Linked DNA regions of Homo sapiens: regions 1, 3 and 4 are each reported to be linked to region 2. Evidence: microRNA targets listed by miRTarBase, many of them from high-throughput screens and not tested one by one. Region 2 holds a microRNA gene; each other region holds the end of a gene's coding sequence.
What was found. The annotated mature microRNA hsa-miR-302e reads UAAGUGCUUCCAUGCUU and lies in region 2 at 2,020-2,036, opposite strand. An mRNA with a match to its seed (bases 2 to 7 or 8) in the 3' UTR can be bound and repressed. Matches are read on the target gene's strand: a 7mer-m8 pairs with bases 2 to 8, a 7mer-A1 pairs with bases 2 to 7 and ends in A, and an 8mer does both.

Region 1: the mRNA of MTMR9 is a reported target of hsa-miR-302e. The part of its 3' UTR that is shown has no 7-base or 8-base seed match.
Region 3: miRTarBase lists KLF3 as a target of hsa-miR-302e. Seed matches in the 3' UTR shown: 7mer-m8 at 372-378.
Region 4: miRTarBase lists GINS4 as a target of hsa-miR-302e. Seed matches in the 3' UTR shown: 7mer-m8 at 346-352 and 7mer-m8 at 3,129-3,135.

What each region holds. Positions count from the first base shown.
Region 1 is chr8:11,322,026-11,326,025 of GRCh38, forward strand. It overlaps MTMR9 (myotubularin related protein 9), which reads left to right. Exons shown (of 10, transcript NM_015458.4): 10 at 600-4,000. The coding sequence ends at 763. It overlaps MTMR9-AS1 (MTMR9 antisense RNA 1), which reads right to left and starts at 3,403. Exons shown (of 2, transcript NR_189628.1): 1 at 3,291-3,403.
Region 2 is chr11:7,232,654-7,236,806 of GRCh38, reverse strand. MIR302E (microRNA 302e) reads right to left here and starts at 2,041; the gene lies at 1,970-2,041.
Region 3 is chr4:38,696,988-38,700,987 of GRCh38, reverse strand. KLF3 (KLF transcription factor 3) reads right to left here. Exons shown (of 6, transcript NM_016531.6): 6 at 1-3,906. The coding sequence ends at 3,725. Among named protein-coding and RNA genes, the nearest start is that of KLF3-AS1, 34 kb to the right of the region's middle.
Region 4 is chr8:41,541,789-41,545,788 of GRCh38, forward strand. GINS4 (GINS complex subunit 4) reads left to right here. Exons shown (of 8, transcript NM_032336.3): 7 at 21-111; 8 at 203-3,242. The coding sequence ends at 299. The region is part of intron 1 of GPAT4-AS1 (GPAT4 and GINS4 antisense RNA 1); the gene reads right to left. Among named protein-coding and RNA genes, the nearest start is that of GINS4, 15 kb to the left of the region's middle. RefSeq lists enhancers at 1,159-1,388, 3,353-3,502, 3,563-3,652.

The DNA of each region.
Region 1 (4,000 bases), not on the chromosome of region 2:
TTGGTTCATAATAAAAGGATAATTATTATTATTTGGGGAAAGAAGAAATTGCCTGCAGAATTGAAAGATTGCCTCTCAAGTAACAGGGAGAGAGGCATGTAAGCACGTGGGCTACAGTTCAGGCTTTCAAATAACAACATATGTGGTTCTGCTTTTACTGTAGTTGTCACTTTTCAGGTGAAAATGGCTTCACACATTTAAGGGATCTTACATGTCTGAGCAATATTCTATAATTATAAAAATAAGTGATTTATATTGTGAAATTGGAAAGTTTATGACATTGCAAATTATCATCTTGTTTTCCTGAATATATCATAAAATGGTATTTGGATCTATTTGATAATTTTGTGGGATATTTCTGAAGAATCAATGAGCATGTACATACAAGTAGTGACTTCTCAAATATTGTATTCAATTGCATCCTTTTCAGTACCTCAAGATTCCTGTATATTTTAGAGTATAATAAAATACAGATGTGAGTTGTGGCAACAAAAGAAAAAAGAATGTATAATACATAAATTACATCTTATCCACAAATGTAATTTTAATCCATTGTATATACCTTTCTTGCTTCTGTTTTCCATTCCTGGATTCAATAGGTATTTTCCTACGTTGGAATAGATCCTCTAAGTATTTGGATGAAGCATATGAAGAAATGGTTAACATCATTGAATATAATAAAGAATTACAAGCAAAAGTCAATATCCTTCGAAGGCAGTTGGCAGAACTGGAAACAGAGGACGGGATGCAGGAGAGTCCCTGAAAGGTCTCCTCGCACCCTTCGCAAGGACCTTCTTGGGCCTGTGTCCGCCGTTCTCTCCTTGTGCCCTTCAGTTCACTTTTACACGGTAGCCTTGAAGTGAAGGCTTTAGATGTGGGACCCCCCTAATGTAATGGATTTCTCAATACTGTATGAATAATGAAACTTACTATCATAAACCATGTTTCATGTGGCCTGTTAGGGCCTGTCACTTTGGGAGCCGGAAGGAGGTGCTAGTCATTTTATTTTTACGTGAAATAGATGACCTATTTAATGCCATTTGTGTTTCATGCCATTTTATCCAAAGCTTTTTCTCTGTGTCCACTCTCCAAACAGCATTCTAGAGCAGTCAAGGAGACAGCTAATCTCTCTAGGGACTATTTGGTGGTTTAAAAAAAGGGTCAGACTTTTAAACACTCTGACCATAGAAATGTTTTTCAAAATGGCAACAATGGATAAACCAAGGATTTTGTGTTTAACAATCCATTTCCAGTGTCTTCGCCACATAAAATAGCCATTTTCTTTAAAATAGTTTTGGACTAACGAAGCTGAAATCTATTCTCATTCTTGTTTGTCAAGAAAGGAAAATCTGTTATTCAAGGTAAATTATTTCTACAAGGGCAACAGGTATGGTCCTCCGATATTTACATTAAGAAGAGTTAAATTTATTTTAACGTAGACACTAAAAGTATGTGCAATATACAATTAAAGTAGGAATTTGTTACTGATTGAGAATTGTTACTGGTGAATTGGTTTTCAGGTTTTGAGCATACATATACAATGTGTTTCAAATGCTGCTTGTAAAATTAAACCATCATCTAGAATAGAGTTAATTTATTATAATCAAGCTACAAATAGGTTTTCTTAAACCAGAGATGCACTGCCCTTGTCTAAAGTTCTTATTGCACTGGTTTATATGTGTATGTGTGTTTTATTGTGTGTTTTTTTAATTTGTAAGTATTCTAAGAGTTTCCTAATACTAAGGTTAAAATTTTCATGTTGACCTGAGCCTTTTGCAAATTTGCTTTGGCTCTATTGATTTGTCCATTATGTGTTAGGCAAATATAACTTAAGTGGAGGGGGAAGTTTATGAATATAATATAGCTCTGTGTTTTAAACCTCAGAAACAGATTTGAGTGTTTCAGTATTATAGAAACAGTGATGACTATTCATGCTCTGCTAGTCTATGCCTGCAACTCCAAATGTTTGTGGTTCAGTATTTCCCACCTACATTTCTGTTTGGTGACATTGCTCATTTTAACAAATATGACCGAGTCTAGTTTTTCTTTAAAAGGATAGTTTATGAGTAATCTTTAAAACCATTTCCATACCATCTGTATATAACCATTTCGGTAGAGAACACACTACACTGAACCCTGCTTTAGAGCTGTGTGTTGAGCTAAAAATATAATTTTTTAAAAATTGACTAGCAAAATCTATGGCCACACTGAGAAGCCTTTGAAAATGGCAAATACTTTTCATCACCAATTGCCCAATTCATCTTTCTTCTGCTTCCTCAGCCTTGTAGCAAAGGCTACACAGCAGCCCACAGTCCACAGTCTTTTTGGGAAAATTGGCCTGCCACCTTCTTTAAGCTCAGTTTATTTTTGACTTACTTTCTTTGCTGTAGTTATGAACCTTGGGGCATTAAAATCCCATGGCAAGGAGCATAAGAGATGTTCTCGTAGCTCTGCGTTGTGTGAAATGTCCATCTTAGTTTTGTTAAAAAAAAAAAAAAAAAAAGGAAACAGCCTCACTTTTTTGTGCTCCCTCAGAATTGCTTGCTATGTCTGTTAATACAGCTGAGCTTTTTGTTTTCTTCTCTTTTTGTCTCAAGATTGTATATGAAGGAGGCTTTTCTTCTCAGCTAACAGGCATATAAGGAAAACCATCTAGAGAGTTTTCTTTAGAAGTGACTCCCATTAGCCTGGTGTGGTGGTGTGTGCCTATAGTCCCAGCCACTAGGAAAGCTGAGGCAGAAGGATCCCTTGAGCCTAGGAGGTTGAGGCTGCAGTGAGCTATGATCGCATCAGTCCACTCCAGCCTGAGCAACAGAGCGAGACCCTGTGTCTAAGTAAAGAAAAAGCCAGAAGTGACTCCCACTGCTTCTGTTGATCGGCCATAGGGCTTCCATGGGTGGAAACTTGTGAGGGAGTTTGTATTAGGTCTGGTCATGGAGGGATGATGTACCATCAAGGTAGACCCATCTTCCTGATGCACATTTGCTGTGCGAGCCAGAGTACAGTCATAACACGGTATTCGCATTTCGTTTTCTCTGTCTCACTGAGACAACAATCTATACTGTTTTGGCAAGTTTGCATTTTAGTATTAATTTATAATTAGGGATTGTTCAAACTTCAGATCTGTTTACAGGTTGTAAAAATAAACTTCGGTATCAGTGCATCTACAGAAGTGTTATTTGGTAATCCAAATATTAGAGTTTTCCCAAATCCAAAAACGGTCAGAAATAAGTCCATTATCAATATAATTTGAAGAAGATTTTTAGTAGTACTGTGAAGTTCGTGCTTACCTGGATGAGAAGAATAAATGACACGGATACACTCCTGAGAAGACACTCGTTAAACATTGCATCGGAGAGCTGCCTTTGATAAATGTGCTGTTAAACACTTGAATGAAGAGAATGGTGGCAGAATGAGTGAGCAAGCAGATTGCCCCAGAGGGGCCGGTAATAATCACGTGAGGGATAATCAGATTCCTGCGTATTCAGCATCTTCTCTATTCATGTGGAGTGAAAGCTGGTTTTTATACAGGAGATACGTAAAGTAGGCCCCACAAATAATATTTTTAAAATACAAAGGATCACCACAATCCTCTATTGAACATATAAGGATCCTCAGATTTAAATAAGTACTTTTTTTTTTTTTAATCAGAAGAACATTGTTGTTTGATTATATGTTTTTAAAAACCTGAAGCTTTTTTGGTGGCAGGACCTTTCAATAAATATTTATTTGGTCAAAATTTTTTATTTTGATTTTATTAAATGGGAAGAAAGCAAGCAGAAATAGTAAAATTCAGTAGGTTTAAAACAATCTATAAATGTATTTTATTTCCAAGAAAACTTAGGGTCTCAAAGCAAGATTTTAAAGTGATTTTTGAGAAGACTTGGGGGGGACAATAATAGACATTCATGTCAGATCCCATATGGGGGATTTTTAAACATTTCTTTGAACTTTGAGGCCTGATTTAGGGGTGGGATTTTATTGCTTTTTGTTTTAAAGG
Region 2 (4,153 bases):
TGCATTACCCTTTTATGTAAAATTATAAAGCAACTGAGTTTAAAATGGAGAAGAAGACAGAAGGGCTTAGAAACAGGTCTATAATTTTACGCCAAGTTTAAAATATCTTACCTCGAATTTGTATCCAAGATTTAGGTCTTTACTACCTGTGCTATCTGGTGTAATGAATGGCGACCTTGGCCAAGAGGAATTCCCTGGACTGTTGTCTTTGATCCTTTCCGATCACTTAAGGCTGATGAGTTGAGCACCTCCTGGCTAAATATGGCCTTATCAGTCACTGTGCGCTCCTTAAATGTATAAGGTCAGGTTCTTACCTGTGGGGCATCACATCCCTGAAGGAAGGACAGACAGGCAGATGCCTAGTTAAAGCACAGAGCCATGTAAAAGTTTTTTATAAAATTATAAAACAATGCAAAGGGATGGAGAGAGTAATTCTCTCTAGAAGAACTGGTCTATTATTTGATCATGTGGCCATAAGAAATTTACTTACTATGTCTGGATAGCAGTATTTCAATGGCAAAATAGCATGTTTGACAAGGCAGGACACTTTTTGGGCTCTAATAGTCTAACGTTGAAGTTAGATTAGCTGGTTTCATATGTATTAGTCTCATCTTCCCTACTAGACTATCATCGGGTAGGGATAATATCTCAATCATCTCTCTATCCCAGGGCCCAGAGGGCACTGCCTGTGACTGTAGTAGGCATCCATTGAGTGCACATTGATTGGTTGACTAAAATTCATCTTTCTATCTTACTCTAATATCTTAGAATCTAGTAGAATTCAGCACTCCAAATTGATAGGCTTCAAACAATGGAGTTTAAAGGTATATATAAATGCCTGCAGAGAGCTATTTCTAGCCTAATGCCTTATTTTTGTGAATCTTGATGAAGGGCTCGAAGAGGGCTCTGCACCTCAATTTTACTTTGACAGAAATCTATCTGAAAAGTTTCCTCTTCTGAACTGATCTAAGCCCCTCACCCCTCCATGATCCTCCCTGAGTCTTAACACCTTAGACCTGTGAACATTAATGTAAATGTGTATCTTGAAGGTGTGTCTACATGTGAGAATTTTGTGTGTGTATGCATGCAAGTTGTCTGAGTCTCTCTGAGTGTGTGCTTGTGTGTTTTCTCCATTGAGAGCAAGTTGTCTATGCCCTGCAGAATTCCCAGCCCAACCTCAGAAACCAAAAGCCTTCCTCCAAGTTACAGAGTTTACGCCAGAGAACAAACATGGATGGAGCTCATGTTTCTTGCTTGTCAGTCCTAGGTCTTCATTCCTTATTCCTGGAGGAAGGAATCTATTCATGAAGGTTTAGATGGAGATAACCATGGAAAAGCTACCAGTCTCAGTGTTGTTGGGTTTTGTTTTTGTTTTTGTTTTTGAGTATTAAAAGATAGCAAGCAAGTTTGACTTTTTCTACTGAATAGATGATGTTCTGTCTGTCAGAAAGACTGGTGCCTGGAAAGTTTTTTGCAGACACTTGCTTTAAGTTTATGACTTGCTTTGCTCCCACAGGAGCAAGAAAATGAACCATTTGTTTTTCAAAACACACACACACATAGAACTATAAAATAAAAATTGATGGCCGAATAAGCTGCCCCCCACCCAAGTTTAATTCATACCTGTCTGAGTGTCTGTACAATTTAAGCACTAAGGTATAAGTGGGTCCAAGTCTAGGCTTCCAGAGACTATCCCATGAATATTAATATTAGTCTGGGATTTCCAGCGAACACAAAGTAGCCCAATGTTACACCACTAACACCGTTTCTGGGTCAGGATGACTCCTGAGGCAAAAGAAACTTCTATGCACTGGAGAAGCTTCAGGTTCCTTTTCTTGCCCCCCATCACCCCCACCTTCCCCCAGCACTTGCTGTTTTATTACAGAATTAGTGGGAAGGAGACCATTTGTGGAGCTGTTGCTGTTCTAAGCACTTTACAAATAATAACTCATTGATTCCTCAAAATAATTCTATAAGGTAGGTGCTATTACTACATCCATCTTACCAGTAAGGAAACTGAAGCATGGAAGCACTTACCCAAGGTGAAACAGCCAATAATTAGGAGAGCCAGGTTTCAAACCCAGGCAGTCTGCCTAGAGACTCTATTAACTGTGAAACCACACTATCTGATGGACCAAACCTCTGTGGCAGGCAGATTCCAGAAATGGACTTGTAATGTCAATATTAAATAAAATCACAGTTTTAAATAGAACAAAACTTTGGCAATTATGTATTTTAAGATTAATTAATTTTAAGGATTATAACAAGGCAAATATAAAAATGGAAAACATTGAGAACTTGTTGTAACAGCCCATGGACTATGATTTTTTTAAATGTACTAATAAGAGCAAGGAAACTTCAACGATTTCTCTTCTTTTATCCTCTCATCTTGATATCTCTGGATACAATGCTCCACCATCTGTCCATATATGCCTCAGCTATGTTGAATCCCAGGAATGGAATTCCTTAAAAGCATACATAAAAAGACCTCTGTAGTCTGTTTTGTGTGGTTGGAGGGGAGAGTGACTCCTCTGTATCCTCTGGTAGGTGAAAGCCCTGGACCGCGTAGCATCCTTTGTTAGTGATTTTACTTGAAATCTACCTTCAGGAGCTCTTTTAGGGCAGGCCTGGTGGTGACAAAGAAGACATTTATGCAGCCAAAAAACACATGAAGAAATGCTCATCATCACTGGCCATCAGAGAAATGCAAATCAAAACCACTATGAGATATCATCTCACACCAGTTAGAATGGCAATCATTAAAAAGTCAGGAAACAACAGGTGCTGGAGAGGATGTGGAGAAATAGGAACACTTTTACACTGTTGGTGGGACTGTAAACTAGTTCAACCATTGTGGAAGTCAGTGTGGCGATTCCTCAGGGATCTAGAACTAGAAATACCATTTGACCCAGCCATCCCATTACTGGGTATATACCCAAAGGACTATAAATCATGCTGCTATAAAGACACATGCACACGTATGTTTATTGCGGCACTATTCACAATAGCAAAGACTTGGAACCAACCCAAATGTCCAACAATGATAGACTGGATTAAGAAAATGTGGCACATATACACCATGGAATACTATGCAGCCATAAAAAATGATGAGTTCATGTCCTTTGTAGGGACATGGATGAAATTGGAAACCATCACTCTCAGTAAACTATCGCAAGAACAAAAAACCAAACACCGCATATTCTCACGCATAGGTGGGAATTGAACAATGAGATCACATGGACACAGGAAGGGGAATATCACACTCTGGGGACTGTGGTGGGGTCGGGGGAGGGATAGCATTGGGAGATATACCTAATGTTAGATGACACGTTAGTGGGTGCAGCGCACCAGCATGGCACATGTATACATATGTAACTAACCTGCACAATGTGCACATGTACCCTAAAACTTAGAGTATAATAAAAAAAAAAAAATTTTTACAACTGCACAAATTTTGATAAAAATGAGTTAAAAAAAAAAAAAAAAAAAAAAGAAATCTACCAGACTTTTTAACCAATATTCCTATGTAACTTTTTGCGTTTTCATGTTAGGTCATTGGGAAGTGAGGGAAGGCAAGTCAGAGTTTTCTAGTGAGGCTCTGCTGAGCTTCTGTGTTGTCTCTTCTAAGACATATTGCATATGTACCTTAAGAAATAAGTGAAATCATGAAAATGAATGTTTTGCTATAGTATCCTGTGGCATGTTGCTTTATACTGTGATGCATCCTTGAACATATATCATTGTATTTCTTACACTCTGACTCTATTAAATGTTTTATTCCATTTAGAATCCCAAACATAGTCTTTGCCCAAAGTTGTCAATTATCTGCAACATATACTTGATTATTTTTCCCATTGAATCAATTATCTACTGTTGCATAAGAAATTATCCCAAAACTTATCAACTTAAAATAACAAATATTTATTTTCTCACAGTGTCTGTAGATCAGGAATCCAAGTGTGGCTTAGCTGGGTACTTTTGGTTCAAAGTTTCTTAGGAAGTTGTAGATGAGCTATAAGCCAGGGCTGTGGTCTCATCTGAAGGCTTGTCTAGGGGAGAATTTCCCTTCCAAGCTCATTTATGTGATTGCTTGGATGTTTCCATTCCTCACAGGCTGTTGAATTGGGCCATTGGCTGGAGAGCTTCTCTAGCA
Region 3 (4,000 bases), not on the chromosome of region 2:
ATAGTATATGAGGACTGTACAGTACAAATTTATGTTCACAGTTTGACATGACAAAATGTCATTACTGAATTCCCATTGGACTACAGAGTAGAAACAGAGAAGGTACATTAAACATTCACATCTTTAGTAAGAAAGATTACCAAAATGTTTCAGTATCTGCAAGTATACTAATGCATGCTAAAAACCTTTACCCATTCAGTCTTATTAGCTTATAAAATATATTACACTTTATTAAAAATTTCTGCATAGTTTATACAAGTATTAAAGTACTGTAAATGTAATAATCCTGCTATATTTGCAGGTATGGTTTAAGAGATGCTAAGCAGAAAGATTATTTTGACCCTCTAACACTAAGTACATAACAGAAAAAAAAGTGCTAGTATTTGTAAAACAATATTGTTGTAGCCCTCGTTTAATGCATGTAAAGATGGCTTTGTAAATGTATTGTTTAGGTGAATTTGCGATCATTTAGCAATTGTTAACCTTGACCAAGAAGAGAATAAAGACAGCTCGGAGCAACTTCATGTATGACAGCAATTCCTTCAAGACAACTGTATATTTTCAAACCAAATTATTTTAAAACCTTAGATCTTTCAGATTGTCTTTACAACAATCTAATCAGGAATGATGCGCATATATACAGTATCAGCAAAATAGTCTTTCAAATTCCACATTAGTGCAATACTGATAGTGCAGATGGGTGTTTAATAAAATATACATATACATATATAGTTCCCCTGTAATTCTGTTCCAAGGCTCTTGAAACTTCTGTGTATTTAGCATCTCCCTAGTTGAATATAGCTATGCTGCTAACACATTCTCCAAACCAAGCAATTTAGAATGTTAATGCCCATTTATGATGTAGATTCACATAACTCTAAAATACGATGGATTCTGATTCTTCTGACTTCTCTAGGATGACACTTGGGTAACAACTGAAGAAACTCTATAACAAACAGAATTTACGTAATAGTAACTTCATGTTTACAAATCATTCTCATCAATTTAAAATATTGCGATTGAAATCACCATTGATAGTAACATGACACACATCATTAAAACATGTTCAAGGGCATCTAATCTTGTATTTGAGGTCTTCCACAATAACAGCTAAAAATGACTAAGAGGCTAAATTTCTCAACTATCATAGTAAAATACAAATATATATATAAGAAAAGTTTGGTAAGGGCCAATTGGTAATGAAAGCGTATTGACCAGCATGGGAATAGAGAATGGCCGCTCTGGGTTGCTTTTGTTCAGAGTTAAAACGGATCTTTGTTAAATGAACTGTTAACACAATCTAAGCAAGCTGAACAGTAATGTTAAGAGTCTTTGCAAGGTCTTGCTTCAAATCTTTTGAACAAAATTTAAATATGCCACAGCAAATGCATCAATTCCATGAGATGCCCATGAGGCTATTCACTGAACTCAGGCTCAAAGCTGATCCCAGATCAATCTGATCCTTTCTCGCCCTTTCCCCCACTTCTCTATGGATTGGAACACACATAAACTGGTTACCTCGGTCAAAACAAAAAGATTTTCCTTGCGTTCCATCTTGATTCTTGTGTGTTGTGAAAGAACCATCTCAAGAAATGAACACTTTGCCATGAATATGACTAAGCATTTACAATACAGACAATATCTACTTTTCAAAGAGCCATTTTATCACTCAATTCATGTCATAGTTGCAAAAAAGAAAAACTTCAGCTGAAAAAAAAATTATCTTTGCCTTTAGCTGAAAAACAAAACAAAACAAAAAAACAGCCCAATTAGGATGTTTTAGTATCCTAAAGAAGTTTTGCAGTGCTTTAAAAAAAGGAAAATCAAACCCAAGTGCCAAGATAACACATTTCTTTGCATTTCTTAACTACATTTCTTTACAGCTGGTTCACAGGGCGGATGAGTGGGACCTCTTAGCCTCTTAGGTGCACAGTCCCTACAACTTTTATTAACACAGTGCCATCAAAGCAAGCTCCCCACACAATTCACAGGCCTCCGGAATCACTCATTCACAGATGTTTTAAAAATGATCAAACAATGTATTCCTCCCAGTTAAAGTTGTGTTGGATCCTGAGTTGCGGCTGGGATGAATCTTCAGGATTTCATTCTTCTCTCTTCTCCTCCATTCTTGATGAAGGGGAATTTGGTTATATGCACCCACATTTAACTACTGTTGCTCACTTTCTTCAAATTCAGGACCAATGACATTTCTATGTATGAATTATTTTTATTGGCATTTAGACTATGGTGCTCAAAAGCCTGCTTTTGAATAACTTCCCCCAATAATGGTGCTATTTATCTTCAACATAAACACGAGCCATTATTTTCAGTTTGTTCTGACACTGAAATAGTGATAGGAAATTGCCAACTCTAACAGTAAACTTTTGGGAATTTTTGAGCTACATATATGAATCCCTGATCTGTGGTTTTCTATATTTTCTCATAAATTCCCAAAATAAAGGTATGTGTGCTTCACAACTAGTTATATTTACAAATAGTGTCACTCAGGTCTTAATTGAATCAATCCATTAAAGCATTAGCAGATGCTTTATGGTATGTGTCATGAATACAAATGACAGCCAATTTGGCACCTTAACAGCTCACACAGGAAGAGTTTCTGTATAAAAGCTATGTGATTAATTTGATAAGGGAATACAAGTACCACTCAACATTTCCCTGTTTACAAAAAAAGCTATAAGCAGATTGGGTAAAAGAAGAACCATCCATACTCTTACCCGAAAGATTTCTTACCATTACTGGGCAAATATTCCATGGAGTCCCTACTATCAATGTTTGATGATCTCATATTAAGGACATTGTAGGAATGGAGATAGTTGCATGGATAACCCCATCGGTATATGGCTTTGCAGCATGGTTCTACAAAGCTGAGTATGCACAGAGACTGAAGCTCTGGGAATGCTGCACACAGCTAACAAAATGTTGAAACCTCACTGACAACCCCTAGCCCAGGAGGAATTGCCTCTTCTGCTCCCCCTGCTAAATGGCCCTCTCCTCCGACTCCATGCTATGAAAACACAGCACCCTTCCCTTGAACTGCTACACATCACCCACCTAGATCGAAAGTTTGGGCTCATCTCCCATTGGTGGCAAAGACCTCCATATGAGCTGCAGGCACAAAGGAGGGCAAAGAACTCGATTCAGATGAAGTCTAAGATCCAGGTTGACAAGATTTGTGAAGAATGACGGAAGAGGTGACTGCACTAGCTTGAAATCTGGCTGTACTTCTAGCTAACCGGTGCAAGGGGCCACACTTGTTTTCACTGTCAAGCATAAAATATTATCACAGGGCAGAGGTAAGAATGTCTCTGGCAAGGACTAGCAGTCTGGATACTGTATTTCTAATACATTTACTCTGACATTCTTTTGAGGAATACATGGAGAACTGACAATTGGTTATGTTAGTTTACATGTTCCCTTGTTCTTATTACATTAAACGTATCTGTAAGAAGGGTTTGCTTAGCATCCCCAGAAAAAAAAAAAAAAGTGTTCACATTCTTTAGGTCTGACCCGTGGTAAGGAGAGGGAGGATTAGAGAACATCTACTACTGACCATATGGAAGTTTTGGATGATATAAATTCAGAGATTCAGACCAGCTGAATCAAATTAAAATGTACATGTAAAAAATGTGTTAGATAATGGGAGGCAGGACAGAGAGAGAGCCAGGTGAGTGGGGAGTCACGCTGAGGCAGGACACAGAGGCAATCAGACTAGCATGTGGCGTTTCCTATGGAGGGCAAGATGGTCAGAACGGGAGAAGCTGCGGTCACAGTCCGGGCACTGGAAAGGTTTGATTCCAGTATGTTTTCGGAAATGTCTTGTTAGTTCATCAGACCGAGCAAACTTCCATGTGCACCCTTCCCATGTACATTTGTAGGGTTTTTCTCCTGCAAAAGGAAAAAGAAAAGAGCTATTTTTTTTTTCTGTAAAGGTAGTAAAGATCTTTGAGTTAATGCTTGACAAATATTATTTCCAAGATAT
Region 4 (4,000 bases), not on the chromosome of region 2:
CATTGTTGTTTTCCTGGCAGTTCCCAAACCAGATCTAGATTCTTACGTGTTTCTGAGAGTGAGAGAACGACAAGAAAACATACTGGTAGAACCAGACACAGATGAGCAGAGGTGAGTGGCGTGCATCTTTCACAGTGGGCACATTCCTCCCGATGGAGGGCCAGCCGAGCTCTGCAGGCAAATGTGTTTCCCTCTTTTTCAGGGACTACGTGATTGACCTGGAGAAGGGCTCACAGCACTTGATCCGATACAAAACCATTGCACCTCTGGTTGCATCTGGAGCTGTCCAGCTAATTTAAAACTAGGCATAAACAGCCAGGCATGGTGACTCAAGCCTGTAATCCCAGCACTTTGGGAGGCCGAGGCGGGCGGATCATGAGGTCAGGAGTTCGAGACCAACCGACCAACATGGTGAAACCCCATCTTTACTAAAAATACAAAATAATTAGCCGGGTGTTGGTGGTGTGCACCTGTAATCCCAGCTACTCAGGAGGCCGGGGCAGGAGAATCGCTTGAACCTGGGAGCAGGAGGTTGCAGTGAGCCGAGGTCGTGCCATTGCACTCCAGCCTGGGTGACAGTGAGACTTTGTCTCAAAAAAAAAAACAAAAAACAAAAAAAAAACAAACTAGGCATAAACTCATGAGGTCAGGAGATCAAGACCATCCTGGCTACTAAACCCCATCTCTACTAAACCCATCTCTACTAAAAATACAAAAAATTAGCCAGGCATGGTGGCGGGCCCATCTACTCAGGAGGCTGAGGCAGGAGAATGGTGTGAACCCGGGAGGTGGAGCTTGCAGTGAGCCAAGATCGTGCCATTGCACTCTAGCCTGGGCGACAGAGCGAGACTCCATTTCCAAAAAAAACACACTAGGCGTAAACAAGAATGAAGACCTGGAACCGTAGAGAAAATACTAGAAACCCCTCGTATCACGTTGTGCCTGAGGACAATAATAAAGTAGTTTACTAGGCATCAGACATTCCTCAGCAGTGCTGTGGGTCACGGGCGTGAAGCGGAGCTCGAGGCAGGATTGCTTGTGTTGCTGCATGTCCTGTCTGCTGTTTTAGCCCGTGTCAGTAGATGGGGCCATTGTACTGTTTGTTCTGCACACTTGGCGGAGCAGCAGAGGCTCTCAGCACGCCTTTTCCCTTTGTAGTATTTTCTGAGCTAAGGAAAGTCAGGCAGAAGTAGTTCATAAGAAGGCATCACTGCCTGTGATCGGGGCTGCATTTAGCCCTGACCTGATAATGGTAGGAGAGTTCATTTAGCCTTTCTGCTGCGAAGATTGTAAATAGATTAAAGAAAACAGCTGTGGCCTTCTCCCGTCATACATCATTAGACTGTGTAAACTAACATTTTAGAACCTCTAATATTGGACTTAAAACCAATTTCTGTCGTGCTTAATTGAAAATCACAACTAAACCAATAAACCATTATTAAATTTCCATTCTGCAGCAGAAGGCACCTCTGGACGGCTCCCGGCTTGTAGTTTAATGAAGTATGTGCTCCCTGCTGTTAACCCGCAGCCCTCCCCAACTCTCCAGCAGCTTTGCCAAGTCAGCCTCCGGGCCATCTGGCTGTCCTTGGCCAAGGCACTGTTAACGGAGTGACGTTAACCATCTTGTATTGTGACCTGTGGCCGCTTTTCTGGTTTAAGTCCTTCACTTTTTCAAGAGGAATGGATGAAATTAATGTGCATGCAGAGTCTCACAGTGATGCCGGAAGGAAGGATGTATAGGCAGTGAATGAATGATCTTTCCTTGAAATGCTATAAAAAGCAACCTGCATTCCAGTCTTTTCTTCCTGGTTGAAGTTGGCAGATTTCCATTTGCAGGGTATGGGCTGCGAGAGTAATCAGGGTAACATTGCTGTCATTTCCAAGAGAAATCAGTAGGGGAAAGCAAGGGAGGTCTTTTTTTTTTTTCTTTTTTGAGACGGAGTTTCCCTCTTGTTACCCAGGCTGGAGTGGCAGTGGTGTGAACACGGCTCACTGCAGCCTCCACCTCCTGGGTTCAAGAGATTCTCCTGCCCCAGCCTCCCGAGTAGCTGGTATTATAGGTGCACACCACCACACCCAACTAATTTTTTGTATTTTTAGTAGAGATGGGGTTTCATGATGTTGGCCAAGCTGGTCTCGAGCTCCTGACCCCAGGTGATCCACCCACCTCGGCCTCCCAAAGTGCTGGAATTATAGGCGTGAGCCACTGCGCACGGCCTGGGGAGGTTTTATTTCTTGACAAAGGTATTTGATACTCGTGCAGTCCCTGGAGGGTCTCACTGGAGAGACAACATTTAGGCTGAGATCTGATTAACAGGAGGCAGCTGCAGTGCAGAGGTCAAAAGGGAGGGTGTTCCAGGCAGAGAAAACAGCCTGTGCAAAGGCCCTGAGGCAGAAACAAACTCTACTTGAGGTCAGCCTGGTTAGAAAGCCCAACTCAAAATAGAAAGTATTACATGATAAGGTCTGAGGCAGGCTGGACCCAGATCTTACAGGACCTTGTTAATAAGGATCCCATTTGGTCCCCCACAGTCCTGAGAAGCGGGCAGGGCTGTGGGAAACAGCAGATATTTAGTGGTAAGCCTGAGATCAGAACCCAAGTCTGCACTTCCTAGTCACGTTCTCCCTGTAGTGCTAAGCCCAGAGACCTGAGCTGTTAACCTAGAACAGTGTGCTTCCTAAGCCTTAATGTGCATACCCATCGCCTGGAGCTCGCCTTAAGATGTAGGTTCTGCCTGAAGCCCAAGTTCATTTAGTATGTCATGGTTAATTCAGAGTAAAATCAAGAGTTAGTACTTGATTTATGCTTGTTATATAAAGAAAGAGACAACTTCACTGTATGATCATTTTGTCACTTTTCAAAAGCATTTAATTCCCATTCAATTGAAAATGTTTCAAGAACAAACCTGTTTGGTCATTTTATTGATATTGCACATTTGTATATGAATAAATTTTTGCAAATTAAAAAAAAAAAAGATGTAGGTTCTGAAACAGGGTGAGGTCCAGGATCCTGCCTTTCTAAGGAGCTCCCATGTTGTGCAGTTGCTGCTGGCCCGGGGACCACATTGAATGACGGCTCTACGTCCTCATGCCTCCAGCTGCTGCCCTGTACATGTCCAACTGCACGGAGCACTTTACATCCTCTAAAACCACAGTAAATTGCTCCATTTCCTAAATTACCTCTTCAAGAGAAGACTGGTTTTGATGTCATTTTTAAATAAAGGAGAAGTTGAATTTCAAAACCAAGTGGAACAGGAAATGATGTGACTTGGTTGACATTGATTTTAACATTTGGTTCATGGTGAGTGTTTTGCTTTATTGTTAAAAACTCGCCACTAAAAGCATGACAGAACATTTTATCAAATGATGGCGTCATCCTTTACCGTAAGTTTGCCCCTAGCAAGACAGCTCTTCCTGAGACGTGCTTGCAGGCCGCTATGTGGGTTTTCCCACCGCAGTCATCATCCGTCATCTGTGACCTTGCTGCATTTACTCCATGCTCACACCCCAGCAGCCCGCCTGGCTTTGGCATCGCCCTCAGAGGCATCAAACTTCCCCTGCTGCAATGTACAAGAGTTAGCCAGGAAGCTTGCAGAGTGCTTTGGTTTTGTTTTGTTTTTTTGACATGTCGCCCTGGCTGGAGTACAGTGGTACAATCTCAGCTCACTGCAACCTCCGCCTCCTGGGTTCAAGCGATTCTCCTGCCTCAGCCTCCCAAGTAGCTGGGATTACAGGTGCACACCATGACACCCAGCTAATTTTTGTATTTTTAGTAGAGATAGGGTTTCACCATGTTGGCCAGCCTGGTTTTGAACTCCTGACCTCAAATGATCTGCCTGCCTCGGCCTCCCAAAGTGCTGGGATTACAGGTGTGAGCCACCATGCCCAGCTGCAGAGTGCATTTTTAAGCAAACACATCATATGTCAATTCTTCATATAGTGTTCTTTAATTTATCTTGGGAAGCCAAATATCCCATTTAGAATTCTGTAAGAACTGATT